Linked DNA regions of Homo sapiens. The protein of the gene in region 2 interacts with the protein of the main gene of each other region in a pairwise test. Each region holds a gene or a part of one and is shown on either strand. Other genes may lie near its edges.

The links.
Region 1: the proteins of LRATD1 (region 2) and ARHGEF5 interact in binary tests that used the Homo sapiens proteins (3 or more experiments, as listed by UniProt).

The regions. Positions count from the first base shown.
Region 1 is NC_000007.14:144,359,690-144,375,752, reverse strand, and holds part of ARHGEF5 (rho guanine nucleotide exchange factor 5), read right to left. Parts: intron 13,096-16,063; 5' UTR 13,084-13,095; coding exon 9,930-13,083; intron 9,399-9,929; coding exon 9,341-9,398; intron 8,908-9,340; coding exon 8,843-8,907; intron 8,652-8,842; coding exon 8,398-8,651; intron 4,593-8,397; coding exon 4,432-4,592; intron 3,877-4,431; coding exon 3,724-3,876; intron 3,455-3,723; coding exon 3,325-3,454; intron 3,071-3,324; coding exon 2,996-3,070; intron 2,559-2,995; coding exon 2,469-2,558; intron 1,022-2,468; coding exon 864-1,021; intron 240-863; coding exon 78-239; intron 1-77. UniProt on the Homo sapiens protein: Guanine nucleotide exchange factor which activates Rho GTPases. Strongly activates RHOA. Also strongly activates RHOB, weakly activates RHOC and RHOG and shows no effect on RHOD, RHOV, RHOQ or RAC1.
Region 2 is NC_000002.12:14,624,522-14,640,778, forward strand, and holds LRATD1 (protein LRATD1), read left to right. Parts: upstream 1-8,195; 5' UTR 8,196-8,416; intron 8,417-9,064; exon of another isoform or gene 9,065-9,307; intron 9,308-9,422; 5' UTR 9,423-9,458; coding exon 9,459-10,337; 3' UTR 10,338-15,520; downstream 15,521-16,257. UniProt on the Homo sapiens protein: May play a role in cell morphology and motility.

The DNA.
Region 1 (16,063 bases), on a different chromosome or scaffold from region 2:
TTCTGCCTTGGTCTCACTTCTTTTCTCGGCTGCCCATCTTCCCCCACCCCCAGCTCCTCTGCCCAGCCCCATCTCACTGAGTCTCCGTGCGGAAGAGGAACTCGGCCTGGGCGCCCTGAGTGTTCTGCCGCAGAAAGAGTCGGAACAGGTTTTTGTGAGGTCCATGTAGCTTCATTTCACACTTTTCCCCCCGAATGGAGGAGAAGGGAGCATGGTCAAATACCAGGAATCGGCTACCCCTGCAAAATACAAATCTTTTCAACCTGATTCTAGAGTTTCCATACTTCACCTACCCTCATAACCTTGGGTTCGAAATCCCTACATCTACAGCCTGCAAATTCCCACAAAAACCATAAGATGGTCCTAACTTGCTCCCAAGATGGTAGCTCCAGGGTCCTCAGGGATTTGTCCTAGTCTGGCAAACCACACACCTAGTGCAGTGGATACATTACCACTTTAAAGAGGTGAAGAGATGGAATTTATATACATTTCCCAAGAACCTTAAGACCAGAGACTTAAGCTCTGGAATTAGCTAAGTATCTCTAGAATAGCAGGTTGAGGCCAGTCCAAAGAAGCCACAAATAGACTCATGTGAGAATGTGATAAGCTAATTTGCTACATTTTGCTCTGTGTCTATACCATATTACATGTCCTGCTATGTGGTCTCATGATACAGTTTGATGGGATCCCCTTTTTGCTTTGGGCTTGTTTTTCTCTTCTCTAGGCTATGACCTGGGCTCTATGGGTTAAGCCATTGAGAAGGGCTCTTCTAGGAACATGACCCTTCTCTCTCCCTTTCAGACCCCCCTCTTTCCTCATCCCCTTCCCCTCTTGTGCCCTGGCCTGCCACTCCAGTCACTGACTCTCGGGGCCGAGACAGCAGCAGACAGTCATTGAAGAGGTGCAGGTGGACTGGACGCGTGTTCAGCTTCCTTCGTAGCCCTGGGGAAGCACTGAACTCCAAGGCTGTCAGCTCCCCACTTTTCACCAGCCAGCGTGACTGAGAAATGAGCGGGAATATCTACAGGGCAGAGGAAGAGAGAGAAGGCAGTGTCACAGATGGGAGAAGCATGAGGTTTGCTCCCAGTCCCACCCTCCTCCCCATGCCACTTCCATGCAAGTTCCACTTGAACAAGCATCTCTTCCACATCTGCCTTCTGGCTCATAACCCATCACTTAGATTCTCTTTCTCTCTGAACCCTCTAACTACCACTGTCCACTGGTGTGTGGCTCCCATGGTTGTATGCTCAGGTAAATAGAAGATGCCTATGGTCCAACTCAGGATAGTGAGTGTGTGGGACAGCTCTGCCCTAGAAGCCTGAACTGAAGGAGGGATGGAAGAGTCCAATCAGGGTATGTGATGGAACAAGTCAGTGAACACTATATGTGTCTTAGAGGTTAAAATAAAATATTAGAGGCAGGTCTGGTATCAATTCCATTTTTTATACCAGAGATATGTGAGCAGCTGGAATCAAACATGGGGGTGAGAAGAACTAGGTGGGGCGTCTTGGAGCTGGAATTTGGTTAAAGATGAGGGTGTGGTCTATGCTTAGTATGTGAATAAGGGATTTTCCTTCTTTTTCAGGAGTGTAAAGATAGTATGTGTTCTAAGCACGAGCGTGGTGGCTCACGCCTATAATCCCAGCACTTTGGAAGGCAGAGGTGGGTGGATCACTTGAGGCTACGAGTTGGAGATCAGCTTGGCCAACATGGTGAAACCCCATCTCTACTAAAAATACTAAAATTAGCCAGACATGGTGGTGCAGACCTGGAATCCCAGCTACTCGGGAGGCCAAGGCATGAGAATCGCTTGAACCTGGGAGGTGGAGGTTGCAGTGAGCCAAGATCGCACCACTGCACTCTAGCCTGGGGCGACAGAGTGAGACTCTGTCAAAAAAAAAAAAAAGATAGTATCTGTTCTAAGTTGGAATTTGAATGTGGAATGTCTATTTTAGATTTGTATTTCAATGAGGGATGCTGGCTCTAAATTTGGATCCAATCTTATGTGGGTTTGATTAGACTAGAAAGAGATTTGATAAAGTAATAAATGAATCAAGCACCAAAACATTCTTTTATAAAGGCTCATCCTGAAAAGTTCTCTCTCATTTGCCCATTTCTCAAATGCACCCCCCTTGTCCTCAGGTAACCACTGTTCCTTTTTTTCTTGTTCTCCTTCCAGAGTTTCCTTATGCACACACAAGCAGACACCTGTATAGATTTGTATCCTCCCACTTTTATACCAAAGGTGATATAATATACACACAATTCTTTACCTTCATCATTTCACTTAGCAGTATGTCTTGGAGACCCAAGTAGGCCTCCCAGAAATAGGACAGAATAGAAGGTGGGCAGAAATGAGGGGAGGGGCTGGGGATAATGTGAGCAAGGTGGTTCCAGGTTAGGGGGTGATCTGCAGGACATGTTAAGGGAGTTCATGGGCAGGGATGGGGTGCATGGGACCGACTCACTTTGCACTCAAACTCAATCTTCTGGCTCAGGTAGATTAGTTCCTCTGTCCGTCGCATACTCTGGACATTGTTATTGCAGTCCCGGATCAGCTAGGGGTGCAGAGAGTGAGGAAAGGGGAAGGGCACTGTGTTAGAGGCTTTGACCTTTGAGTCCCTTGCAAGCAATCTGGAAATAGGTTATGACAGCCTCAGTCATTTTTCCCAGGCTGGAATTGGGCAGGCAGTATCAAGCACAAGTCCTAGGCAACTTTGTATGACTTGGCAGAACATTCCTGAACTGAGTAAAAGTGAGACTGAATGGGGGGGTGATGGTGGAGAGGGCACAGTCCCTTGATGTGGAGTGTGCTCGGCGTGGGAGAGGTGGCCGTGGGGTGTGTATGTTTGGAAGTTTGGCGGATGCAGGGAGGTGGCTGAGCTCTCCCAACAGGGTCCCACCTCCCATGCTCCCTGGAGTCATGGGCCTAGGTGGGAAAGACCTCTCTGAGAAGAACACACAGAGGGTCAGAGTGGAGGTGGTGGCTGCCTACCTGCTCCAGGGCGTGGTGTGCCTTCGTGGCCTCTGCCTCCTCCGAGGAGCCAGGCTGTGTTCTCTTCAGAATGTTCTATTGAACAGACAGTAGGCAGGAGTGAGATGGGAGGAAGAAATGGGAAACAGGAAGAAATGATTGGGGGCTGGTGAATGGAGAAGCCCAGGGACCACATTTTAGCAGCAAATATTTCCAAGCAAGCAGGCAGTGGGCAGCAGGGAGACAGGATGTGGACACCTGGCAGAAGAATGGTTGGTCCTTTGTTGTGGGTCTTCCTGAGGGCATCCCTTTGAGTTAAGGGGAGAGGATCAAGGTAGCATCTGCCCTACCTGGAGCAGCAGTTTGAGGCGGGTGATGCGTTGGAAGGGCAGAATCAGAAAGGACTTGAGGGAAAGGCGCTGGCAGACGGGGTCGCTCTCCAGCTTCTCCAAGACCTCCCGGAAATTGCTGTTGCTATTCCTGCACGGAGAGTGAGCCTTAGGGGAGGGGGGATATGGGGAGCAATGGGGGATGCAGTGAAGGTGCGGGGAAGGGAGGTCAGTGGAGTATCTGTGGGCTGGGAAAGAGCGGTGGGAGCTGATGTACAGGGCGCTCAGATGTGATGCTGGGGTAACCAATACAGAGGGCGGAATGGGGAAAGTGTGCTCTTGGGATAGCCCTCTGGGCTGGGGACTGGTGCATGGTCACCTCAGGGCCTACATGGGGATTAAATGGGGGATGAGTCTCACATCAGGCTCTGGAAGGTGCGTTCCTGATAGGTCTGGTTGGTGACATAAGGCAGGTAGACCCGGCGGAAGTCTGGGGCGTGGTTCAGGACTACGTCACATACTTGGAAGGAGAAGATATTGTTCTCAAAGTTCTCTTCCAGGTCTGAAAGGAACCTGTACAGGATTTAAACGAGTCTCATGAGACTTCTGGACCTCAGCTAAACAGCTGACTGGCCCCTGGTGTACACTGAGCTGGTGACTTCTTCACTCCATTAGCCAATAACTTCTATTGACTCTCTGCTCTGTGCTCCTTGCTATGCACTAGAATTCGCTCCAAAACTGTCCTGAGTTTGAGCCTGATTTAACACTTTTATTCTAATATTCCATTTCTCATTCTTCTTTTGACCCTGTTCAGGTTTTCTGATCTTTAGATGGTTTTTCCACCTCATCTCCAATGCAGTGCATGACCACAGTAATCCAAAACCTCAACCCAGGAAGCATTGCTCATTTACTTATCCATTAATGGATCTATCCACCCACAGACCCTCTCCTCTTCTTGCCATTCTTCTTCCTATAACCATCGGGAATCATGGAAGAAACTGAGGCCCAATTTCTTCCCATAACTGTGAAAATGAAAGGGTTTCTAAGAGGGGAAAAAAATAACGGAACATTTAAAGCCTAACAACAGTGAGGCTGAGTGAGTGGTATTTAGGAGAAGGGGAGTCTCACGTGGCGCTGACGTCTCGCACATCCTGTAAACGAGAGAAGAGCCATTGGTGCTCCTGGTTGGAAAGTGTGGCCCGGAGTGAAGTTGAAAGTTGGAAATGATCCACAGCTATGTTTAGACTGCGCAGGTAGGAGGCCTCTGACACAATCAGCTCAAATTTGACCTAGGAGGTTGGAGATGAGGAAGATTAATTAAGGATTTTATTTACCCCCTGGAATATGCCAGCCACTGTGTAATGTTTTGGGGATAGAGCAGTGAGCAAGATCCTTTTATGGTTCACAGTCACACCAGAACCTAAGTTGATCTGCGGGGAGGGGAAGAGCATTTGAGTAGGATTTAATCTAGGGTACAGGTACAGGCCTTCAAAGGTATAAAAGAAAAATATGCTTTCAAGAAATCTAAATAACAAAAACAAGAACAAAAAATGAGTAACAAAGTGAGATGGATATGTTAATTTGCTTCACTAGGGTAATTCTGTTACTATTTATATGTAGCCCATAACATCATGTTGTATATCTTTAATATACACAATGAAATTTATATTAAAAAAGCTAAATAGACTGGGTGCAGTGGCTCACGCCTGTAATCCCAACACTTTGGGAGGCTGAGGTGGGTGCATCACTTGAGTCTGGGAGTTCAGGACCAGGCTGGGCGACGTAGAGAGACCCTGTCTCTACAAAAAATACAAAAATTAGCCGGATGTGATGGCGTGCACATGTAGTCCCAGCTATTTGAGAGGCTGAGGCGGAAGGATTGCTTGTGCCTGGGAGGTGAGGTTGCAGTGATCCCAGATTGCACCACTGCACTTCAGCCTGGTGACAGAGTGAAACCCCATCTCAAAACAAACAAACAAACTAACTAAACTAAATAAATTGAGCATTTTTTGAACCAAGTGTACAGCAGTAGTGGCCAGAGATGAAGCTGCAGCAGTCGAGGAGGCCTGAAGGGTAATGTAAACAATGTAAAATTGTTTGGACTTAAGACAATGGGACAATGAAAACAGGCTTTACATAGGAGAATAACTTGACCACATTTGTTTTATATAAAGTTATTTTTTTTTATTTTTTGGAATTGAGATGGAGTCTTGCTCTGTCACCCAGGCTGGAGTGCAGTGGCACGATCTCAGCCCACTGCAACCTCCGCATCCCAGGTTCAAGCCATTTTCCTGCCTCAGCCTCCTGAGTAGCTGGGATGACAGGCATGCACCACCACGCCCAGCTAATTTTTGTATTTTTAGTAGAGACAGGGTTTCACCATACTGGCCAGGCTGTTCTCAAGCTCCTGACCTCAGTTGATCCACCCGCCTCGGCTTCCCAAAGTGCTGGGATTACAGGTGTGAGCCGCTGCGCCCAGCCTGTTTTTCATAAAGTTATTTCTAAGCAGAATGAGAAGAAAAGATGAAAAGAAGCAAAAGCCATCCATGTTAAGAAACTGTTGTAATAATTCCACATGAGAGATGAAGGTCTGAATAGCCATGGAGCTGAAGAGAAGTAGATTAATTTTATAATTATTTATGAGGTAGAATTGGAAGGGTTGGATTATTTGCTAGAAATGGGGCCTCAAAGAGAAGGAAGGTTCAAAGCTAATGTTTTGTACTCACAGCAAAAGCTTTTTGAGTCGGGCACCTGGGTGAATGATGGAGTCATTTACTGAGCCAGAGAACTTTGAAAAGGCATAGATTTAGGGGATGAAGGTGATGAGCTCAGTTTGAGGTTTGAGGACAGATGAGAAGCAGGAGACAGAAGCCGGATATCTGAGAACAAGATGGCGCGAGAAGCAGGAGACAGAAGCAGGATATCTGAGAACAAGATGGCGCAGCTGTGGTTTAATGCATGCCCAGCATGTGAGAACTTGTCTGGAGGTTCCAGCAGGGGGCGCTATGACTCATGACCGTGCCTCTAGCTGGGCTCCTCATGCTTTTCATCCAAGCATGTGGCCTCAAGAGAGATGCCTGGATAGAAAAGAGAAAGGAGACACACCCTGGTGATGACTTGGATGACCAATGACACAGCCAGATGACCCTCCCATACAACAACCCTGAACAGGGACACTGAAGGCTCATTTGCATCCTTGCTCTAACATTCACTACACGACTGACTTTGGGTGGCTCATTTAACCTCTCTGAATCTCACTTTTCGTGTCCTTTTATGTGGATATAGTGACCCCCATCTCACTGTGGAAGATGCAACAGTTGAAAGAAATGGAGCCTGTGAAAGCACTTTGTGAACCCCAGAGGTACTACTTTATAAAATGAATATGTGTGTTTAAGAGATAGAAATGTAAAGCCCTTTCTTCTCACAAACATGAGACCAGGGCTGGAATAGGAGTCCTGCTGGACTTCCCAGCATGCTGGAGTTGGTAAAAGAGAGCTAGAACTCGTGTCATCTCCCACTGTTTGGTCAACAAATATGGGGAAGATGAGTTATTTTCTAAATATCTTCTCTGTGCTTAAAAATTTGCAGCCACAACAGGGCTCTCAAGTCTGAACTTTGCAAAGTCTAAAAATGTATTCTCTCTCTGACTTGGTAAAAGCATTGTCTGTCCATAAGTCCTCCTGGCCCAAATTTTACTCCTCCCTGCCTCTGAAAGGCAGAGAGTACGGCACTAATATTTATCAAACTATACATCAAATATTACTGCTAAATTAGATATGCATTATTTCATTTAAACCATTCAGCAACCCTGAAAGGTAGGCATTATTATCCTCAATTTGCAAGTGAGGAAACTGAGATTTAGTGATGTTATAAGGCTGCCTAAGCTAGCAAATGGTGAAGTCATGTTTCAAACCTAGGTCTGGCTTACTTAAAATGAAAAGTCAACATTTTTTGAGAAATTACTATGTACCAGGCATTCATGTTTCTTGATCCTTGCAGTAACTGTTTGTATCTCAGTTTTACAAATGTCATTTGGCCAAAGGTAAATTGGAAATATTAAAGTGGGCTCTGGGGCTGGGCTCAGTGGCTCATGCCTGTAATTCCAGCACTTTGGGAGGCCGAGGCGGGAGTATTGCTTCAGCCCAGGAGCTCGAGACAACTGGGCAACATAGTGAGACACCATCTTTTCAAAAAATTAAAAAATTAGCTAGGCATAGTGGCACATACCTGTAGTCCTAGCTACTTGGGAGGCTGAGGCGGGAGGATTGCTCGAGCCCAGGAGGTTGAGGCTGCAGTGAACAATGATTGTACCACTGTACTCCAGCCTGAGTGACAGAGCAAGACCCTGTCTCTAATAAATTAATAATTTTAAAAAAAAGTGGTTTTCATATCCAGGTCATTTCTTCCAGAACCTAATTTCTTAAACATTATTCTATTCCATTGTTCCATACTGTCTTTCTGGGAAGAAAGGTTTTACCCCATATTTCAGACAAATTAATAAGAGGCGCTCTCCATGTAAAACTTACTAATGGTAATAGCTTAGAATCAGACAAACAGCCTCTAGTTCAGTCTTGCTGTTGGGAGTAACAATCAAGCAGGGACTGATGATCACTCTAAGGCCCCTGTTAGATTGATGGACCACAGGACAGCTGCAAAGGGCCCTCTTCAAGGGACCCAACAAAGAGCCCCGGAATGTGCCTTGGCTAAAGAGGAAAACTGTAGTGTAGCCTGAAACCCTGGTTGAACAGGGAAGCTTTCCTCTACCCTGAAACAGCAGTGATGATGGGATTAACTCCACATTCCTCCACACAAATTCAGAGGCAATGGCCACCATGTATAGCCCAGACCAACATCAGGTAGGAGCAAGTGGCCTATGGCATGAGGAGGTGAGGATGAAAGGGGAGGTGGTGAAATCCAGAAAACAATTCAACTTCTTCAGAATGGACATGACCCACAGCTGTGGCATGTACACGCGCCTGTGTGGTGGGGACAGCCGACTCTTGGTGGCAGTGGTGAGCAGGAGAGAAGGATGCTAGCAAACAAGACCTTGTCATCTTTTCTGTAGCCCCCTCCCCACCGTGGCCTGCCCAGTACCTCTTGCAGCTTTTGGTCTTCATGGGTCATGGAGAGCAGCACGGTGCTGTTGCGCACCACGGGGATTTCCTGCCAGAGGGAGCCGCTGGAGGCCATGGAGAGCCGCTGCAGGTACGACTCGGAGGAGACCAGGGCCTTCCGAGGCTGCCGCGGAGAGCTAGGCCCGGGTGTCTCGGACAGGCTCTCCAGCCGCTGCTGGCTCTGGATCTCCTTATTCAGGACAACATCACTATACTCCTGGTAAAGCAGCTGGGCTGCAGGGCAAAGAAGCATGGGAAGGAAGAGAAGCAGGAAGAAGGGACGGTGAGCGGAGGCAGGGAAACAGATCTTCTGCAATGCCTTCTCGCTAGGGACATCCCCACCCCACTGCTGACATCCACAAGCCCCTCTCCAGTGCTGGGCAGAATGCCCACCTGGTTCTATAGTTCCACTTCAAGGTACTCACAGGAGTTGATGAGTTTGGAGCAGCGTCTTGAAAAGCCTCCCATCACCTCCTTTGGTTTTTTCTCCCTGTGGAGTAAAGAAGGGCTCTGGGGTACCTACTGGCCATTAGACACAGAGCACCCCAGGTGACTGTGGGGGACAAAGTCTCTAGCCTCTGGGATGTGTGCTGGGATGTCAAGACCAAATCCCCCGGAGAGGCACAGAGTTGCAACTTGACCCACTTGGGCTAACATGGAGCTTTTGTGGGGTTTAGTTCACAGCCATAGGGCTTGGGAAGATGGATGACTCGTAGGCTCGGCTGACCGAATGAGGTAGATAAAGACAATCTCCCTAAGCTGGCATCCCGGCATCTCTCTCTTCTCCTCCTTACACCAAGAAGAAACAGGAATGAGCCATTCGGGGTCTCAGAACCCTTATCAACTGAAATCCTCACTAGGGGACTCTCAGTATCCCAAGTGAAGAGAGTACAGTGTGGCTGTTAGGGGAGAGGGTGACTTACCGAAAAACAACAGTGTCTGAGGGTCCCGGATGTTTCTCCACGGCTGGACCTCTTGAATCTAAAAGTGGAAATGGGGAAGATAACTGAGATTTCAGAGGGATAGAGAGAGCCAAAGAAGATCTAGAGCAGGAGATGCAGGGGTCCAGAAGGGAAAATGGGCTTTATTGGGAAACTGGGAGGGAAGAAAGTGGCAAAGCAGAGAGCGTGAAAGAGATCAGTACCAGTGACGTCCCGAGCCACGGGTCAGGATGGGACTGGGACAAGTACAGAAGGCCTTTTCTACTCCCCAGGAGGAGAGCAAGCAGGGACTGTAACTGAAGAGTAGAAGGGAGTCCAAAATAACCTTGGGACATCCAAAGAAGGTGCTGGTTGAGGGAGAGACAGGGAGATAGAGGGGAAGAAGAAGGAAGAGCATCCCAAGGAGCTTGGAGGGCACTTCGGGGCTCTCTCTGTGTTGAGGTTAGGCACACATGTGAGCGAAGCCAGCAGAGAGAATGTTAGGAACCCTAGGGACAGAAGATGGGATGAGGTGGGAAGAGCTGGGAAAAGCTTGGTCTGATGTGTCACTGTGGTCCCGGTTCTTGCTCACCTGAAGAGCCCTCAGGCAAGATGGAAGGTCTGCGCAGGCCCTGCCGGCTCCAGCCCTTGTGCTTGTTGGCCCCCTCACTAGGAGCCACAGCCTGTCCACTGCTGTCCCCTGGTGGCCTCCCTGAGTCCCGCCTGTGGGGCCAGCTGGACGCCTTCTCCAGGTGCAGATGGCTGGGTTTTTCTGGCTGCCTTGCTTGGCCCACAGGTGACCTCCCTGGGCCACTGGCTCCTTGCTGAGGGGTTGTCCTTCTCAAAGGTTCTCTCGCAGGGGCCTCAGGGTGTTCTGAGACCCCTGCTTCATCCTTAGAGGTGGGTCCCTGGAGCTCCGGAGTCCAGGGAGTGGTAGGGGAAGAGGGGCATAGGAAGTTTGTCATGTTGCTGAAAGCCATGCCAGGGGACACTTCGCTCTTACTCCTGCTGGTGGAAGTGAAAGACTCTGTTGATCTAGCTGTGGCCGGGGGCCAGGAGGTGCGTCCAGCAGAGGCAGGGAGGGGGACTGTCCAGTCTTGACAAGCAGGTCTTGTTTTGGCATGACCCCCTGAGTTCATATGTCCTCCCCGAGTGCTCCTGCTCCTCCCCCTGGACTTTGGGGGCAATGGGGGTGGTTCGGTGGGAGGGTCTATGATGGGTAGTGGGGGTAGAGGCCTGTAGATCCTTGAGCTACCAGGAGCAGAAATGGGAGGAAGGTGGGGCTGCGGCAAATCAGGGGTAGGGGGTAGCGGCTTGTTGTATCTCCACCTGGGGGTGGCCTGAGCATGGTGGGAGCTGTCTGGGGTAGATGGCAGAGGTCGGTGCTGCCTGGCCACAGCGGGGTCAGAGGCTTGGGGAAGTGGGCCTTTATGGGGGGCATGCAGCCCTGAACCTAGGGCCAATGGAGGAGGGTGGCTATGCTGCTTCAGCGTGGGAACCACTACACGAGCATGGCCATCTGTCTCCACCACGGAGGGATGGGTGTCCCTCCTCTGTGGGGGAGGAGGGGGCAGAGGTTCGTGGATCCTCACATCCTCCATGGAGACAAAGGATGGGGAAGAACCGTAGGCGGGAGACTCTGTGGCAAAGGCTGGATTATGTGGGGAGACCCAGGGCTGGATGCTGGGAGGACTGCTGGGTCTCTCTAGATTTGAGATGGATTCTTGAGAGTCCTGCTTCAGCGTGGATAAGGCAGTAGGGGATGCTGAAACGGTGCTGTAGTCCCTACCACTCCTTCTGTCCCTTCTTGGGGTCACAGAGCTGTAGATGGCAGGTTTGGGGGGCCTCTGGGGCAGCTCTGAGTGGGAGTAGGAAAGCAACATTCCCACCAGGTCTGGAGTCTGCTCTGTCCTGTGAGAACCAGGGAAGGAGTCACTCCGTAAGTGCTGGACGGTGCCTGTGGAGTTGGCTGGGGGCCTCGGAGGGCTGGTCCCGGTGGAGGGGAAGCCATAGAGGGCAGCCGGGCACATCTCAGAAGTCCCACAGGGAGATGGGTCATCCATTGAGAGAGGGGCACTGGCAGTTTCTGGAGCACGTGCAGCACAAGAGGTTTCCCTCCTGGGAAAGGCAACTGGGGGCCTGGCAGATACCGAGGCAGGTGTGATGGGGTAGGCTTCAGCAGGACTGGGAGGAGCTGAATCTGGTGTCCTTGGAGGAGTCACAGATGCACTGGCAAAGACCACCTCAGTCCCTTGGCTGGACACTGTTCCCTTCCTCAGCCTGGATTCCTCTTGCTGGCTGTTTTGATCTATTTCCTTGTCAGGTGACTCCTCAGTCAAAAAGGAGCCCAGTAGAGAAATGGGCTGGTGAGAGCACCTGATGGGCTCTAGCGAGGGAGACAGAGCTGCGGGGGACAGTTCCTCAGCCCTGGACTCTGTCTGAGTCCCGGGAATCTGAGTCATGAGATATGAGGCACCTGGAAACAGGTCACAGTGAGGAGAGTCCTCAGGGGCTATCAGAGCGGGCATTGAAGGCCCATGATGCTCATTCTCCTCTTCCCTGCTCCTCGCTCTTCCCACTGCCCCCAGCCTGCCCCCATCCCAACTCTCTGGCTCTTTCGCCTCCTGCCCGCTGACTGGCACCCCTTTCTCCTTTATACCATGATCTTCTTGCTTTCCAGTTACTTCCTCTGATTTTCCCAAAAAGGTTTGACTCTTTTCGTCCTGAGAGTCCGCCCTATTCTCTTCTGGCACCTGCAGCTCCCTCTTCCTCTCTTCTCCCTGTTCTGGACCTCCCTGACCCTGAGCCTTCCTCTCCATATCCTCCTGCTCCCACTCACCGTCATTCAGACCCTCTGGCTCCCCAGTGAGCCCCATTCTTTCTCCTTGTCTCCCAAGCATCACATCTTGTACCTGTTCCTGTTTTTGCTTCTGTTCTCCCTTTTCATCATTAACCTGCTCTATCATCTGTTCCTCCCCTAATAGCCCATCGGCACAAACATCCTCCCTCAGAGTTCCTTCCCCCCGAAATCCTGCTTCCTGCTGTCCCTGCTCCTCCAGAACTTGGACCTCCTGGGGATGCAAGAGCCCTTGACTTTCCTGCAGCTCCTCAGGTGGCAGCTCTTCCCCCTGCCTGATAGTCCCACTTTCAGAGCCTTCATTCTGGTTGGTCTCTGCAGGATGCTCTTCGCAGGGAGAATAATATCTGGTCTGACCAGAGTTATCTGAAGAGGTTTCCTCTTCTTCTTCTGCCTGTCCAGATCCCAATGTCAAAGAAGTAAGTCCTGGCCAAAATTCCACCTCCTCTTCTTCGCTTCCCAGGTCACTGGAAAATGGGGCCATGTCTAGATGCTCACTCTGAATGGGGCAGGCCCAGAGCTCTGGGGGAGCTAGAGTCCTTGCTTGTCGGCCTGCTAGGCTCTGGGGTACTGCCTCCCAGTGTTCCGGAGTGTCACAGGCCTCAGCCACAAGGCTTTCCTGATTGGGCTCCACATCTGCAGAACCTTCCTTGGGAAAAGAGGGCATCGTCTCAATCGCATAGTCACACACATCCCTTAACTCACTCTGCTGAGTTGCTGAGAGTCTGTGTTCCTCTCTCCACTTATAGGATGGGTCCTCATCTTCTTGAGCTTCAAGCCCCAAGGCAGAGACCTGGCTGCTCCTCATGGGAGCCTCAGGGATAATGCTGAATTCCTCTATGGCAGAGATGGGAGGAGAGGCTCCACGCTGGGCCTCCTCAGCCTCCATCAGGGCTGAATCCTAAGGAGGAATCAAAGACAAATGTTTCTAACAACTCTGCTTTTACCTATCAGAGGAAGAGACCATAAAAAAGAAGAGTGATGCATTTATTTGGTTCCATTTAGGGTCATTCTTTGAGACAACAGGTTCTCAACAAAATAAGCAATAGCCTCTAAAAAACTTGTCATTGATGTATTTATTTCATAAATATTTTCCTAGCGACCCTGTTAAGTGTGGGGCATTCAGTAGTGAATGAGATAAAGATCTTGTCGTCATGGAGACTGTGGTCTTGTGAGGGAAACAGGTCATAATGAACAATTAAATTATAGCAGAGGACCATTGTCAGAGAGTGCCCAGAAGCTCCCAGTTGTCAGTTCTCTCTAGACTCCATTATGTCATCTTCTGTCTCTCCCTGTCTACTCTTCGGACACTAGGAGTGACTCATCCTCATATAACCCCCAGACACAGCAAGGGACACACCTCAGATCTATTAGGCCAGAGAAGCAGTGTCAGGAGAGGGTCTTCCTCTTAAGCTGTGGACATCAGTTAAAATAGGCCAGGCTATGATAGCCAATGTGTGAGGTGCTATGGTTTCATCTTCTTTACAGAGGGTTTGGAGTTTACTCATCTTTCTGTTTTCCATAGTGTCTACTACAGCATTGTAACTAACAGTTTTGTTTCCAATTCTAGAGGCAGCTGTTGTAAAGTGGGATGATAACAGCCTTATTGGATTAGTGTTGAACTAGACACATTACCACCTTGAAGGAAGACCACAGAAGGGTGCTTTCTGCATCACCTTACTCTCCCCTTGGCCTCAGTATCCATATGAACTCTTCTCATTAATTCTTTTGACCTTCCTGTCTTTTGATTTCGACCTTCCTGCCTTTCTTCTCACTTCCAGCAGAACACCTCATCTCCTATTTTGCAAAGAAAATAGAAACTGATGGAACTGGGTTTCTCTCACCTCAATTTCTTGCGATCCAAAGCAACCTGTATTTCCACTCTTTCTATCTTCCGCCCTCAGTCAGGAAAAGACGTATCCCTCCTTTCCATGCTCTGTCATTTCTTGCCTGCTTCCCCAGGAACACTGTGCACTCATACCTTCAACATCCCTGCTGAACAACCCCTGGGGTATGGAAGCATTCCCACATTCTTCTCATCTTTCAAATGACTAGAAGGAGTTGCTCTTATCTGCTGTCTTCATACTCTCACATCCCACCTGCCTCCAACTGAGCTTTGATAGCGGCATTCTGCCAATATTCCCTACAATCGACATGTTGTTAATTCCAAAGAAGACCTTATGGATCTTCATTTTGGGTGGTTCTTGTCAGTATTTGACAGTACTGAGGTTAGAAATACTCTCTTGTTACTTGTGGTATTACATTTTCCTGGTTTTACCCCTTCAGTTTCCTCCAGTCTTTTTTTTTTTTTCTTTTCTTTTTTTTTTTTTTTGAGATGGAGTCTTGCTCTGTCACCCAGGCTGGAGTGCCGTGGTGCAATCTTGGGTCATTGCAACCTCCATCTCCGGGTTCAAGCCATTCTCCTGCCTCAGCCTCCCGAGTAGCTGGGACTATAGGTGTGTGCCACCACACCCAGCTAATTTTTGTACTTTTAGTAGAGACGGGGTTTCACCATTCTGGCCAGGATGGTCTCAATCTCCTGACCTCGTTATCCACCCGCCTCGGCCTCCCGAAGTGTTGTGATTATAGGCGTAAGCCACCACACCTGGCCTCCCCTGATCTTTTAACTAGGTTAAATTGTACCCCTCTTTGTAGCACTTACCAACTATAATTCTCTTTACTTTTCCTTTGTAGCATTTATACAATTATAATTATATAATGATGTGTGTATTTTGAGTTACCCTCTATTGCAACCAATAGATAGTAAAATTTATGAGATTAAGAACTATGACTTGCTGAATTATCCATACTTAGCCTAATAGTGGCCTATACTCAGTGTTTAATAAATATTTTTCACATAAAGAATAAAATTCAGGTCAGAATAAAATGTGATCCTTTTACTTCAATGGAATATGCCCACCTTTTCCTAAAATCATGATTAACAGTTTACACAGAACTTTAAACATTTAGAGCTCTATACACAACAAATTAATTTTTCTTATTTTTCATTCTGAAACACTAAGGTTTTCCTGCATACATGTCATTAAAAATAATGAAATGCTTCTTTAAATATGTATGTGCCATACATCTAAGAGTCATCGTATAAGATGGGTACCATTATTCTGCCCATTTTACAGATGAAAAACTGAGTTTCCCAATGCACTTTATGTATATAATCCTGACACTCTGGGAGGCTGAGGCAGGTTGATTGCTTGAATCTAGGAGTTTGAGACCAGCCTGGACAACCTGGTGAAACCCTGTCTCCACAAAAAATACAAAAATTAGTGGAGCATGGTGGCACGTGCCTGTAGTTCCAGCTACTCGGGAGGCTGAGGCAGGAGAGGGATCCTGGGAGGATCCCTTGAGCCCAGGAGGCAGAGGCTGCAGTGAGCCAAGATCACATCACTGCTCTCCAGCCTAGGTGACAGAGTGAGACTCTGTCTCTAAATAAATAAATTAATTAATTAAAATAAAATAAAATTCTTGTTTCCCTCCTGGCCCAGATTCCCCATATCTAATCAATCACCATGTGCTATTGACCTCGTCTGCTAAATATCCCTTAAGACTGTCCACTTCTATCCCATCCCTCTCCACTGGTGCATGCTGCTACCGTCTCGCCCGGGCCACTGCACCCGGCCACAGCTTGGGCACTGGCCTCCACCCATTTCACGCTATTCCAGTCCTTTCTCCATACAGCACCTAAGTGAGCTTCAAAAGCACCAGTTCTAGCTTAGATTCTTCAGCAGCCTCTGAATGCTCTTGAGATGAAATCTAAATCTTCAGCATGGGTTATACTCCCTGCACAACCTGGCTCTGCCTTCTTCTCTAGCAGCCTATTCACCTGTCACCATCTGTCCCTGCCCCCATCC
Region 2 (16,257 bases):
ACAAATAAATACCTCATTATGATAAATTTACCTCATTATGATAAAGATAATTACTAAGGAAGGAAAACAAAATAAATCATCATTGGTAGCTATAAAAAAGTGCCATGACACCAGAAATAAACACCTAGAAGAACAAGTGAAACACATATCTAAGCAGGCACTTTACTGTTTTAAATAAGCACATATCTACTTTTTTAAAAAAATTTGAAGGTATCTCTATCAATCAGCAATGCATTTATTGCAAGTTTTCCATAGATTCCCTACCCTGTGCTATCGGTTGTAGGAAAATTTAAGTAAGGAGGAGGAGGTAGGTAGAGGAAATAGAAAAAGAGAGAGAGAAAGCACCTTTGACTCCCAAAGCTATCACTCTCAATTCAAATTCATTTGTATTCAATCAATGTGTATTAAACTTCCACCTTGCAGCATGGATCGTGCTCAATGATGGAAATACTGGTGGGAACATCATAGATACAGTCCCTCCCCTAAAAGCTCATAGTCTCATAGTGGATACAGACACAGAGCTAGGTAGTGACAATATTACAGGGAAAGGACAGAGAACAGTAGGAACACCTAGTGGGGCACCCAAGGCAGATTTTGTAAGTCAGAGAAGGCTGCCAGGAGGAAGTGAAATCTAAACCGAGATGAAGAAAGAAATTTTTGTCAAAAGAAGATTGGAAGAAAGAATCTCAGCAGAGGAAACATAAGCAGTAACATAAGAAACAGCACAGGCTCTCAATGAGGCAGAGTATAGTTAAAAACAAACAAATAGGCCAGGCAGGATGGCTCACGCCTATAATCCCAGCACTTTGGGAGGCTGAGGCAGGCAGATCACTTGAGGTCAGGAGTTCATGTCTTGCCTGGCCAACATGGTGAAACCCTGTCTCTACTAAAAATACAAAAATTAACCAGGAGTGGTGATGGGCGCCTGTAATCCCAGCTACTCCAGAGGCTGAGGCAAGAGAATTGCTGGAACCTGGGAGGTGGAGGTTGCAGTGAGCCGAGGTCACACCACTGCTCTCCAGCCTGGGCGACAGAGCAAGACTCTGCCTCAAAAACAAACAAACAAACAAACAAACATACAAACAAGCTTAATCAGAAAGGCTGAAGCAAGAAGCAAGAGGGCAGGTAGCAAAAGATAAGGTGGAGCAGTAAACAAGGGCAAGATCATGAATCTGCCATATGGTTGTTCAATATTTTCCTGAGGGCAACAGAGAGTTACTGAGAGTTTCAAGCAGGGAAGTGACCTAAAAAATGTACATTTTAGAAATCACTCTGTATACAGTACAGGGAGATGACCACGGGGAACAACAATGTTGGGGTTGGGGGAATAATTCGTAGCCAACTGCAGCAACGTAGATGGGAGTGCCTGGTGCCTGGGACTAAGGTGAGCTGTAGGAAGGGACTAAAGGGGACAGATGAGAAAGAATATGCATGAGGGAGACGTAACAGGAGTTGGACATGGCCATATGTAGCCCGGGGTAAGGGAAAAGTGATAGATAATGCCCAGGCACTGGCTTGCAAAACTGGGACGGTAACAGTGCCTATCAGCAAAATGAAAGACAAAAAGAAAAGCAAAAGAAGTGCTCAGAGCTTGGTACATCCTGGCCTTTCCATGTCTGTGGAACTGCCACAAGGATGTGTCTTCTAGGCAGTTAGATGTTTGGGTCTATAGTTCCATTAGGGAGTTATCAGATAGACATGGGATGAAAGCCAAAGAAGCAGACAAGATCACCTTCAATATGACTTTTCCAAAAGCCAGTCAATGAGGATGCATTGAGAAGAGAACGTGGAAACAGAAGAAGTCCTGAAGAAAACCACTATTGAAAGAAGTTAAAGGAAATCAGTCCACAAAATGTTGTAAGATGAATAGCCAGAGAGGTTGAAGGAAACCAGGAGAGTGAATGTAGTACAATGGAAGGAAAGGAAGAGCCTAGCTCAACAAGGAAGAAGTTGTCATCTGTGCACATGCTTCTCAGAAGTAAGGTAAGAACCCAAAAACATCCATCACATTCAATGCTGATGAGATCACTGTTCCCCTTGGTGAGAGCTGCTCAGTGATGGAGCGATGGTTGCACAAGACAGCCTGTGGTGGATTGGGATAAACTGCAAGATGGGAGAGTATCTCAAGGGAGAGGTACAGTTAGGAGATGTTTTTACGATGTGAGAGACAAATATGACTCCATGCAACTGGGAAGCAGTTAGGAGAATAGGTGGGGTTATATACGAAGGTGGAGAGAGGGGTTTTATTAAAATTGTGAGGTCCTTGAGAGGGCACAAACAGGTGGCATTCAGAGCCCAGGTTGATGTACTTGTCTTTGCCAGGATGGGGCCAGCAAAGGCACTAACAGAAGGGCAATCCAGATGCAACACAAAGAGCATAAAAGTTACTCTTTGCAGAGACAGAACCAAGATTTTCATAATCAGTCAATCAGTAGCCTAAAAGGGAATTTGATACCTAGGAACAGAAAGTTTTCCTGTTTATGCAGGTTTCTGCTCTAACCACAGCCTATGAGCACAGTGGGCGGGGGCACGGAGTTTGAGCAAGGAGAAAAAAAGATAAAGCCTCAGCTCTACCATGCACCTGCAATATGACTTTTAAACAAGCCACTTGACTTCACAATGCAAACTGATACCTTTATTTACCAGCTTCGTATGAGCAAGTCTAAAATGAGTCTCACTGCTGTTGAAATGAACCAGAGGATGTCTAGAGAATGAAATTCCAAGTATTTATTAAGTGCCTACTCCTCAAGGGCTGTCCCTGTACTTAAGAAGAATATTTTTTTTGTTACATTTGAGTAGCATTTGACTTGTAATTACTACACAGCATCCAAAATGCCTGGAAAGACTGTTCAAAATGCAAATTTCCTAGAGCCAATCCTAAGATTAAGTTTCAGTAGCTTGGGAATAGAGCCTGGGAATCTGCATTTTTATCAGGTTCCCTGATGATGCTAGAGGACCATTTGGAAACCCAACACTATACATCACATAGCACACCTTCCCACACATTGTCTAATTTAATACATGTGTAGGGTATTGAAGCGTTCAAATTAGAGAAAGCTGAAACAAACACAAATACCGACACCTCACTAACTAAAACAGAGACCATTATTCACGTGCGCCTTGAGTCAGGCAAGGTGTATTTATTGAGTGCACATTGCACCAAACCCTATACTTGGCAAAGAGAATATGGACTTGAATTCGATTTTGGACTTTTCTTCAAATATTCTTTAGTCTATTAATAAGGAAAAAGAGGAACGTCAACCCATGATGCCAGCTCAATTTGATAAGTGTTTTGACAAATTTCTGACATATCTTGTGTCCAATATACAGATGGTGCTATGGAAGCATAAAGGAGGGTCTCAATTAGAGTGGGCTGAGGGGACAGATATATTGGAGGGGCTGACGCTTGATAACCTGGGTTATTAATTTTGAGTGGAGGTTAGATCAGACAGGCAGGGAAAGACATTCCAGAGAAAAAGAAGAGTAAGCAGTGTGTCTGTAATAGTGACCCATGCCTACCCAGGAAAGTTCAACCATCACTCATATGGGGAAGTGGGCCCAAACAAAAGGCATGAACTATCCTAAAATTGGGAGAGAACACAGAGAAAAATGAATGCTAGGTGAAGATATCTTTGTATAATCCACAAAAAAATAAAATATTAAACCAATTAGTGCTAAAGGTTTTACCCAGGGAGCATTCATGAGTCTTTAATGGTTCGCTGATAAGAAGCCACAAAAGACACTTTAATATGAACACTCAGTTATGGGAAGGAAATTAGAGAACATGGAAATGTGGAAGCCAAACTTGGAAATGGGCACTGAAGAGGAAATTGATAGCCAGAGTGTCAATGCATGCATGCGGGTTAAGGGAAGCAGGATACCAGCTGCAAGAAGTTTACTGGGAGGGGTTTCCCACGCCATTGTTGTGGTCTACAAAAGTAGAAAGCAGGTAAGATGTTCAGAGAGCTGGGTAAGTTAGTCACATGGAAGCTGTGAAAATTTCTAGAACAAATAGTAGGGAGATATGGGGTAGTACCTAGAGGGGAGAGAAGTGTTCATTAGTGATTTCTTTACATTCTAGGTGATGTGAACCTGCTGAAATGCTGCAGGGATTTCAGGCAAGTTAGCCTTGGCAGTGAGAACAGATACAAAGAGAGAAGGAGGTAGGAGGTGTGTGTGGGGACGGGGGAAGTGGGGGAGATTTTTATTGTTCTGAGATAGGTCTAAAATGAAGGACAGTATATCAGTCAGTACAGGCTAACTGCTATAATAAATAACCACACAATTTTGGAGTGGCTTAACCCAAGAAGATTTATTTCTTCACAGTCCAATGCAGTTTTCTTGGGAGGGGAAATTATCAGCTCTACACAGTCATTCAGGAGCTCCGGCCTTCTTCCATCTAGTGGCTCCTCCATCTCTTAGATCCTAGGAGTCCTACCATGAATCCTCTACAAATGGCCAAATTGGCAAAAGAAAGCTCTGGAAGATTGTGTTAATAATAGTTTCAGTTTCAGGAGCTTTCAGGAGCGGCACCTGGGAGTGGCTTATTCTACTTCCACCCACATTCCATTTGCCAGAACTCAGTCACAGGGCATGGGGCAAATGACTGCAGGCATGCTGGGACTTGTCATTTAGCTGGGTGCCCAGAAGGAAGGGAAATGGGATTGGTGAAGCCATATAACCATCTCTAATCCAGATGGACACAGAGTATTCTTTAGCTCAGACCAGGGTGAGTATGTTAACTGCCTAAGGCAGTGAAGGACAGGAGATGGAACAGTTCATTTCATTAAAGGATAAAGTGGGGCATATAATTTTCCTGAACCCTTACTCCAAGCTCCAAGGCCAATTTTAAAGGATGACAGTTTGAGCCAAGGACCTGTTCAGTAAAATTTGGAGTAAAGCTTTTCAAATAGTGCCAAAGAAGCAACCAAAAACAAAAAAAAAAAAAGAGAGAGAGAGGATACATCAGATGGCACCAGCAGAAAAGATCACATACATTTGATTGACTCCTAATCACTCCCCTGTAACTTTTTTCCCCACACAAATTCCTCACACCGGAAATGTTCATTTAAAACAATTAAAAATCCTTCAGGGAACCCCCACCCCACTCCCTGCTACCACATGATCAGCCCAGGGGCTCACATGCTGAAATCTATAGAGAGCTTTAGGTCTCAGAGTATTTGAAGGATAGGCAGGGATCTCACCACCTTAACACAGAAGCAGTCCTACACCCCAATCAGGGAAAGCCTTGGACACTATCTATTGCTACCTTTAGCCTGGGGCAAAGGAGAAAGAGAACTGCACAGCTGTCCTAAACAAGTAGGGTATGAGACCTCTCTCTTCCACCAAGAATAATAATAAGATAGCCTTGATTGAAAACTCACTGTGCGTCAGACACTATGCTTACATGTATGAACTCACAACAATTCAGTGAGGTAACCACTATTATTATCTCTTTTTTACAGATAAGGAAGTTTCCTGATGCCCACAAAGTTTAAATAACGGACTCGAGGTTACCCAGCAATAAATGTTGAAAAAGAGTTTAAATTAGTTGGCTTTCAGAGTTTGTGTTTTGGACAACTATATTCTACTTTGGACAGCACTGTATTTTCTCATTGTAAAAGCAGGCAGGATGGAGTAAAAAATAAAAGTCAAAACAATTTGAAAACAATATTTTGTGATGAACATAAAACATTTTCTACAATCAGCATCCTTCATTTGATTGTCTTACTTTATTATCTGGTAAGTGCCAAAAGAAGACAAAGTGTAGATGTATTTTCCTTAGTTTACTTTTAGCTCCCTTTATTTCAAGCCTCACAGTCAATGTGTTCCCTGCCTTATGTTTCAAGGGGGCTCCAGGGTATTTTTTCTCCCATGTGATTACAAAAGCAGTTAGCCGTTTAGCCTAGCAGGGGGAATGAGAGGAAACGGAGAGGCCAAAAATTTTAAACTTTAGGCACTATATCTCCAATAACTGACAACATTTTATCTTAATTATGCTTTATAGTATTGGAATACTAAACAAAGAGGAACGACCTGCTTACTCTGTAGTCTGGAGCAGAATGAAATAGAACACGTAGGGCAGAACACAACAAATGAGTTGTAAATGTCTGTGCACAAGGCTTGATCTTGGGGATGGAGGGAGGATATTTTTTAAGTTATTCAAACGCTGAGTTGCTTTCAAAGAGTTCTTCTCAGACATCAACAATGAACTCTTCAGATACCCTCATCCCAGACAGCCCTGAAGTCCAGTTTATAACAAGACCAATAACTCACTCCTTATCTCTAAAGCTACTTGTTCAATTCTCTTGACTTCAGGGCCAAAATGAGTTGTTTATTACTTATGGCAAGTATAAAAAAGGCCATCTCAACCTGTGGTCAGTTCCACGAATGGCAACTTGTTTTCTGATAACTTGCATGCACATGGACAATAGCCAAATTTCCAAAAAGATTTAGGTACATCAATTGTATACCGATGGTCATTTAAAACCATTTTTTCCAGCAATATTTTAGCATCTAATTTGATAAATCACTGCATTTGGAGGCTGTGGGGGTGTACAGAGACCTTCAGAAAGCAAACATAAACTGGAGGCTTGGCGGTTTGAAGATATTCAAGCAGAAAAGTCTAGCAAAGAAAAAGGGGGTTGTAATATGGATCAGTCTCCATGTAACCTTGAGCCAATCATCTAACTTCTCTGAAACACCAGTTTTCTCATTTTATGAAACAAGATTTTATTCAATAAACACTATAACTTAGTGAAAGACTGGATCTGGTATCCCGTAGGCTTGGATGGATTGCTGGTACTAGTATTGGAGCTTTTGTTTCCCTGTTTGTTACAATTCGGATATTAGTGAGTACCCTACAGAGGAATAATGATTAAATTGTCTACTTAATTTACTCTTAAGTGTCTGACCACGTATAAGTGGTCAATACAGGCTGTTTTCATTTTTACTATTACTGATGGAACACACTGCATGACTAGCATTGGGAAAGAGGCCCAGAATACAAGGTTGTGCAGAATGCAAAGTCTATTCTCAAGGAATTCGCTTTGTAGGGAAGAGGTGGGGGGTTCAAATAGGAAGTATCAAATTCCTCATTGGGAAAGAAAAGAGGCTTCATAGAAAAGCTGCTGGAGCCCAGGCTTAAAGATGAGTAGCATTGGGGCCAGAACCAGATGTCTAAGAACTCTTTGAGGCTTAATGTTAGGAACTTTTGAAACTATTGGTCTGGAATGTTGTATATATGAAGTTCATTTTTTCAGCATCCAATATTCAGAACACATTCATTCATTAACTTTCCATCCAGAAATGTAATCATTAACTACTGCTGGAGCCTCCTTTCCCACAAAACCAAACAAAACTTGCTTAGCAATCCCAATTCTGAGGCTTGGAAAACACTTTTACATCCTACTCTCTGCTTGCATGTATGAACTCACATACATGAGTTGTGAGGTACTCCTCCTATATTCAGAAAATTGGAGGCCAATATCATAGGCACAGCCAGGGAATGCACCGGCCAAAGCTCAGGCTTTTGGGTGGCATTTGACACCAAGCTCCTTTTAAATCGGGCATCAGCTCTGGGTCAGCAGCCTCACTCCAGTCAAAGAAGAGGAGCCAAACGTCGCAGGAGCAATTTCAAAGACGTCTGGGGAACGAAAAGGGTCTTCGATCCAAGGACCAGCCTAGGGGCCATCGGGAACCAAGGCTCTGGGGGATCCCAGCAGGGCCCAGACGCCCGCCTCGGGCAATGTCGCTGCCTGCCCCGGGCCGCTCGCAGTGCCTGGGCCATACTGGGGTGCCCTGGGGTTTCTTCTCCATACCCAGACTCAGCTTCCCCGCTGGAGTCTGTCTTCCTGGAACACGGAACGCGGGCGGGCTGTGTTCTCAGTCACAATCAGCTCGGATGAGCTGGGGGGCGCGGGCGCAAGCGGGCATCGGCACCTGGCAGAAAGCGCCGCGCCCCCCGCGGGTGCGCACACCTCCGCTCCCCGGGGCGGCGCGCGGTCGGGTGTGCGGGGTACGGGGCGGGGCGGAGCGGAGCAGAGCAAAGCGCACAGGAGGCCCGCCTCTGCTCCCCTCCCCCGCCGGCGAAGATTGACACAGCTCGAGCACCCGCCCCAACCAATGAGCGCGTCCTGGGGCGGGCCCTGGGACCGGCTGCTCCGGCTACTTAGAGTCGTCGGCGCGGCGGTGGGAAAGCAGAGCCGAGCCGGGACTGTCCAGTGGGAGCAGGCGCCCCGGCCAGCGCAGACCTGGAGGCGCACGGGCGCCGCACCGCACGATTCGGCTCGGGGTAGAGCGGAGCCGCAGCCCCACGCGCAGCCCAGGACCCACTCGCCACCGCCGCTTCCTCAGCACCCATGGGGACCAGGAGACTTTAAAGGAGTTTGGGGTTTCGGGAGCAGGGAAATCACGGGTAGGGAGAAGCGGCTTTCTTTGCCTTGGAAACGGTTTTTCTTCATCCGATTGTTTGGATCCTGTGCTGGGTAGGAGGGAGAGGGGTCTTTGGGCTAAAAGTGAACCTCTCTACACACACACGCTCCCACCCACACCCACACACATACACTGCACTGGCTTTCTCCATCCTTCCCCTGCCTCTTTGTTAGGTTATTTTAGACAGAGCAGCCTCGCCCTGGCGCAGTCCCATTGGCCCTGATGGGGACAAGGCAAGAGAAGTAAGGGGCAGAGTGCACCTGCCTGTGAGGGCAGGTGTGCCCGGGTGCTTGGGCGTACGTGCAACGGCGAGCGTGCAAGCGTGGAGCTGAAATTGTGTACGAATGTGTGGGGTCTAAGTGTGCCAGTGTGTCGTCGCGAAGGTTTGTCATTGTGGGTGTATGTGACATACACCAGTATACCAGGCTGCCAGTGTCTGGACTCCCAAGTGTCCAAAATGTTGCTGGTGTCAAGTGAATGCCTGAGAATGTGTCTGATTGTCATTGTGCGAGCCGCTGTAAGGGGAGGAAGGCAACCTAGTGCAAAACTGGGAGGTGGGCTGGAGAGGGTGGGGACAGAAATGGGAGCTTGCTCCCAGCTCACTGGCCTTAGGCTCCCTTCTCCCTTTCAGCCCACCCCTCGGTCCTTCCTGGGTGTCCGTCTCCCACACTGCCACAGCCAGCACTCTCCTCCCCACCGGGACCCCGCAAGCTCTCCAGCCAGCCTGGGTGTTTTCTTCTGGGAGTTGGACCGAGTTCCCGGAAGGGGTCGGAGGCTGTGTGGTGGCGTCTGCTCTCGCCTGACCTGTGGCGGCTTCTCCGCCCCTCGTACCCCTGGGGAGGCACGGAGGACTCGGCTGGAAAGGGTGACTCCGGTGAGGGCACGTAAGCTAGCCGGCAGGTCCCAGGGGCACTGCACGTCTTGGGGAGGGACACCGAAAGGGGCAGCCCGGACTCTGACGGTGTCTCTGCCTCTCTGTGCCTCCGCAGATCCCCGCTCCTGGCCCTCGCCTCGCCACCTCATTGATGGGCAACCAACTGGACCGCATCACCCACCTCAACTACAGCGAGTTGCCCACAGGGGACCCGTCGGGGATTGAAAAGGACGAACTGCGGGTCGGGGTTGCCTACTTCTTCTCGGATGATGAGGAAGACCTGGACGAACGCGGGCAGCCCGACAAGTTTGGCGTGAAGGCCCCCCCGGGTTGCACCCCCTGCCCGGAGAGCCCCAGCCGCCACCACCACCACCTGCTGCACCAGCTGGTCCTCAACGAGACTCAGTTTTCCGCCTTTCGGGGCCAGGAATGCATCTTTTCCAAAGTGAGCGGTGGCCCTCAGGGCGCCGACCTAAGCGTCTACGCGGTCACCGCGCTGCCAGCGCTCTGCGAACCCGGCGACCTGCTGGAGCTGCTGTGGCTGCAGCCCGCGCCGGAGCCGCCCGCGCCCGCCCCGCACTGGGCCGTCTACGTGGGCGGCGGGCAGATCATCCACCTGCACCAAGGCGAGATCCGCCAGGACAGCCTGTATGAGGCGGGCGCGGCCAACGTGGGCCGGGTGGTGAATAGCTGGTACCGCTACCGCCCGCTGGTGGCCGAGCTGGTGGTGCAGAACGCCTGCGGCCACCTGGGCCTCAAGAGCGAGGAGATCTGCTGGACGAACTCGGAGAGCTTCGCCGCCTGGTGCCGCTTTGGCAAGCGGGAGTTCAAGGCGGGAGGGGAGGTGCCGGCAGGCACGCAGCCCCCGCAGCAGCAGTACTATCTCAAGGTGCACCTGGGAGAGAACAAGGTCCACACCGCCAGGTTTCACAGCCTGGAAGACCTCATCCGCGAGAAGCGCCGTATCGACGCCAGCGGCCGCCTGCGAGTGCTCCAGGAGCTCGCCGACCTCGTGGACGACAAGGAGTAGCCGCCTAGGGGCTGCCGGCCCCTCTGCCTCCCCCGCACCTCGCTCCCTTCCCTTCCCCGCACCCGGACTTCGCAGTCAGCGGTTCTCAACCTCTGCCCCGCCCCGCCACGCGCGTCCGCCGCCGGTGGCCCGGGCCCGGGCTGCACCCCCGCATCCCCAAGCCAGCGGCAGGAAGTCTCAGGAACTGCCCCAGGGCCGAAAGGGCGCCGCTGCGAGCGCCTGGCTGACAGCCACAGCGGTGGTGACGGTGCTGGGAGACCCCGCGTGCGCTTTCCCCTTGAGATGTAAACCGGGAACGGGGAAGGGGCTGAGGGGAGAAAGGACATGGCCTTCCCCGCGAGTCCATGGCCAGTGACTGTGGCCCGACTCGAAAACAACCCTCTTCTCAAAAGGGACCATCACCGCCCCGAGCGTGCGCACACAGACCGGTCGGAGGCGAGAACTGGTCTCTACAGGGCACAGTTCAGCTCCTCTGTGGATGCGTCCCCAGATCGCAGGATTTCCAAGAAATCGAGCCTGTCCCTTGTGCACTTGGGAATAATTCCCCAAGACAGCACTTCGGGATTCCGGGTTATCCTGAGGCTGCCCGGGACTTTTCCAGCTCTCCAGCCCCAGGTCTCCTGACATTGTGTTCCAGGCTGCGGGCTAAGCCAGACAGTGTTTGCCTCCGGTTCTTTCCACCGTGGGAAGCGAACGCCACCCCCACCCGCCTTTGCCTGCGAGTCTCCCTCGCTGGCAGAAGGGAAGCCGGCCCGGTCCCGGGAGGAAGATGGCGCTGCGAATTCGGTGAGGACAGCCGGCCCCGCCCCCGACAAGGAGCTCGCTCGTTCACCTGGTGTCTGGGAACTTGAATGTGTGAAGGGCGCTTATTGTTCTGAACCCTTGATTGCTCCCTCCTCGGGCTGCATTTCAAAAATAGTCATATTTTTAAAGGAGTTGGAGGAGAGGGAGGGGGAGGACATGGCACCATTCCAGAAACCAGCATTGTTACAACACCATAGCCAGTATATTTAGTTTGGCTTTTCCTAACATAGAAATCTTCAAAGCTGGGGAAGTGGAAATAAAGTTTTAAAAATGAGAGAGCAGTTTTCCAACTATGTCAACAAAGCCTATCGTGTTGATGTTTTTATTGACCATTTTAGCAACAGGCTAATAAAATTTCAAATTGAAATTTTTATTTTCATGGCTTTAATCCATGATAGTTTAAATACTGGGGGCCATTAAGAGTGGATGTAGCTAAGAGCTTAGCTAACATTGCCTTTTCACTCTATTTTTCTCAGATATTGTAAGCATTCTGTTTTTCAATATTGTAGTTAATTTTTTGGCTTTCAACAGCAGCCCTAGTAATGGTGGAGTTGTTAATTAATGTGTATATTGTACTGAATTTCTGTCAGTTAAGGGGTTCACTGCTTTGGTGGAAATTGGTGGAAATTGCTAGCAGGTTCCACGATGTTTATTTTTTTCTCCATGTTGTATATCATTACCATTTCACATACGCGTTTCTATTTTTCTTCCTCTCCTCCTGATCTCCTTAAAAATGAATCTAGAGTTGGTGGCTTTTTCCCCCTCCTCTTTGGCCAGTTCCACAGTTCAGTTCTTCCTGAAAACAGGGATGATGAACTTGTAGGATCAGGACAAATGTGTGTTTTTCAAAAACTTAAGGCTGGGTGTGAAACACCTTCTGTGGACAAGGATTTGTAAACTTCTCTCCTCCCTCCAGCTGCGGCCCCAGCCTAACTGATAGTTACTTGATTCAGTGTGCTAGACACTTAAATAGCATCTATGTCTCTTTCAAGGGAATTTGTCAAATAATGCTGTTTAGCTAATTGTTGCAAGCAATTGCATATTAACAGCTGTGATTTTGTTGGACAGCAAGTATTATGGCCAAAGCCAGTTTCTTGGCATTTCAAAAATAATGCAATAAAAACTAGTTGAGGTTAGCTGAGGCTGGAAATGCCTTTTTCATGGTAAATGATTCACTTCTATATTTTTCTTTCTTTTTCTTTTTTTTTCTTTGGTTTTCATCCTGGATTCATCCCCTGATCTTAAATCAAAACGTCAGATCAATGAACTATGAACTAAAGTATTTTTCTTAAGCCTATTGAGTGATTTATTTTTTAAAAAATGTTTAAATGCATATGCTTTTCTTTCAGCACAAACAACAGCAAAAACTTTTGTAATAACTAACTTACCTTTGCATGTATGAAGAACTGAGTCATTTATTTCCCTAACTTACTCCTCTTTCAAGTAACAGGTGGCAGATCATAAAATGAATTCTTTATTGTATCTACACACTCCACATTCTTTACTGTGTCCTACTACTGTATCTTGGCTCCCTGCTGTATTAAACACCATCTTAAGCACTTGTTCCTGCAGGACTCCTTCTTGACATTTTGTCTCCCCCTTCAAAGTCACTCAAAGAGTGGGACTTCATCAAAAGAAATGAATTAGTCTCTATCACACCGAATACTAAGATTTATTTCCTCTGATGGTACATAGATTTCTCTCTCACTAAGAGGGTCACTCTCATAGAGGAATGTCTTGTCAGTTTTATACTTGCTGAGGCTAGACTGACAATAAAAATGAGCTGGGCAGTTAAATTAGCATTTGTTACTATATTGGCCTATAAAGGATCAGGTTGATGATAATACCTCTAAAAATATGCAATAATAAAACAATAGTTATGAAAGAAACTTGAAAGGTTTGCAAGGTTTCTCCTATCCCTGTTAAAATTATCATTTATTATCTCTTTGTCAGTGTTAGTAAGGTAACCCATGACAGAATAATTTGAGTGATAGTTCATCATGCAGAGGATATGATCAAGATATTACCTAATGGTTTTATCCTGAAAAAGGTGTATACTTTTAGGGCACTGTTAACAATGCGAGTGAAACCAAGATGGTGCAAGTTCCCTTTGCAGATGGCGTGGGCACACTTGATTTTTATTATGAGTGAATGTAATCTTTCTGTATTTTACCAGAGTTACAGCAATTACCTGAAAAGTTTCCTAACATTTTAATAATGTTAGGGATTTCGTTTTGGTTTTAGTTGTCCTCAAGAGACAACAGGTTCACAGTAATTTCCATGATGTTGGGTGTGGCTAAGCTGGGGATTGGTTCTGTTCCCCCTGCTCCCGTGTAGAGAAAAGCTATATTTATACTGCATTCTTTCTCAACTTTCAGGTAAAACAAACTATGATTTAAAAAAAGAAAAAAGAAAAGACAGGTACTTTTACTTCAAAGAGTGCTTTGCTACATTTTTATTTAAACCAAAAATCAAATAAAATAAGGAGGGGGGCTGGGTATACTTTAAACAAAACCAGTCCTGAAATGCTGTTATTCTCAAAGTACATTCCAAAAAAAAAAAAAAAAAAAAACTATAGAATTTACGTATGTTACATTTTTAAGTATGAGTTAAATTGATATAAAGTGTTCCTCAATATTTAATAATGTAAGCTGTTGTCATGACAGTATTTTTTAAAAATAATAACGTATATTATAGTTACGAAACACTTGTGCCAGATTAGAACATCAAGCACAGAAGCAGCTGTATGATTTACCTGTTTTTTTGAAACTTTAATGTTTACCTTCCCCTATGTTTAATTTTTCTGTGGTGAACACTTTTGTTAGAACATGGCTTTTTTATTTTTCTTGGAAAAATATGCTATTAGTATTTACAAAATAATTAATTACCTGAATAAGCAGTATATACTAAAAGTCTTCAAACATTACTTTATTGATTACTTATGTTTTGTGGTGCGCTTTCAACATCCCTAAGAGTTAAATGTCTTAGTCATCTAATACATGGAACAGGGTCAAACTTCAATGAAATTAATACTTATTGCACAATCATAATATAGCAACCTAATTTTCTTTTATTTATAGGCATATCTTTAAAGCTTTCTTCTCTTTTTTGAACAAATGAAGAGAATCCAGTTAGTTTTTGCCTTTCAGAGGTGATTTGCCACGTGCACAAAGGGTCTGTAGGTGAAAAGACAGGCTTTTGGGTTTCTTGAAACATCAAAAACTGAATTTAGAGAATGGTTATCTAACACTCAAGTCAATGTTTTTTTTGAAATTACTAGCTATTGGTATAATATACATATATGTACATGTATACATATACATACACACATATGTACATTTACACATATGTAAGTATACACTCATATACATATATACACATGTATATATACTTGTGTACACATACATTTTTGCCTATAGCTAGCAATTATTTCATTCAGATACACACACACACACACACACACACAGGCTACTTAAAATAGAGAGTGACTTGAGATATACAAAAACAGGAAGAAAAGCCCTGGAGGTCATATAGCTAATGTATAACTGCACAGCAAGCAGCTATGTCTAAAGCTAACAATAAAAAGAAAATGTGGGAGTTGTGCAATTAGTTTTATTCTCATTTTTTGGAAGAATATGTTCCTGGTTTCTCTAACTAAAAGGAAAAAATTCAAAGGAAAGTTGTAAATATTAGGAAGTAACTGAAAAATAAGAAGCAAGATAAAGTGGGGAGGCTATGAGATCATATAATGAGCTAATAAACTTTTCAACAGGGGACACCTGTTCTCCCTTCTAACTGAAGACACTAAAGAGAAGCTAAGATCCTATCTTTCAATCATTTAGTAATTCATAAAATCCCATTATTTCATAACTCAAAGTTTACCTTTGAGGTTGTATGTTTACCTCATTTGAACTCGAAATAGAAGAGGTTTAAGTATTTGAATAAGTTGGGAAAAAAAGGAAAAATAGTCTTCCCTGCCCTTGTCACTGATGGTGACACTACTTGTAATTACTGTATTTTTTGGCAGAACACTCAGATGAACAGATTCCTATGCTGTGGACTTTTATCATTCTTTTTGATGGCTGATAGTAGAAAGCACACAGTAGGTACTCCATAAATGTAAGACTATGGCAGCTGTCTAGTACAAGTGCTTCTCACTGATTCTTGGTTACCAGGAAAACCAGAAAGCCCGTCACTTGCCTTGCCTGCAAAGGCGAGCCTAAAGAAATTTCTCTAACCAAAATTGGCAGGTTCTTTCCACCACAAAAGGCTCTTGGAAATATAACTTATGGGGCTTAAGGCTAATTTGAGTTGAAGGGTATTTGTAATATTTGATTTGCTTTTAGCAGAGAAAACAATAAAAGAATCCAGGAAAAGTAGAAAATGTTCTCTTGTCATTTGGTCAGAAAGGGAAAAGCGAAGGGAAAAGCAAAATAGTTCCAACTGTAACTTTCACAACTTCATCTCTCATTCACCTCAAGGAGAGATTTTTCTCGCATGAAATCACAAGATTATTCCTTCAGAAGGAAGCTTATTGTAGCTCTTGCTAAAAATTTTCTTTGGTATATGGGAATAGATTTACTAGATGTACACTTAACTCTGGGAAAATTAGATTTGATGGAGTTTGGTCATGGGTGTTTTTCTAAATACACATTACTCATTTATATATTAAAATAATTGCTATGCCTCTTGGCTTTTATAATCCAGTTCTTAATATGAACATGAGTTCTGAACTTTATTTTGTCCAAAGGATAGATACTTATGAAATACTAGGTATGAATAGAGTCAGTGTCCTAAATTTCAAGCACAAAATGAATGCTTCAAAAGTTACTTTGAGCATCATTTAATGTTTCAAAAAATTGAAAAAGATCATATAAGGCTATTGCTTATATGTATCCTAAGGAAATTCTTGCCATCAATGGGTGATACAGACATTAATGTTCTATTTGAGAGCTTCTTTATTATAAGTACACTGACATTTACTTTAGCAAATAAGTTATTATTCTAAATTCAGTTATTTTCCCTGTGACAGCCCTGTGACATACCAGCTCTTTGCTCACTTCCAAGTCCACTGTAGATTTCAGATTCTGCAAGGGGGTGAGCAGATCTAGGGAGA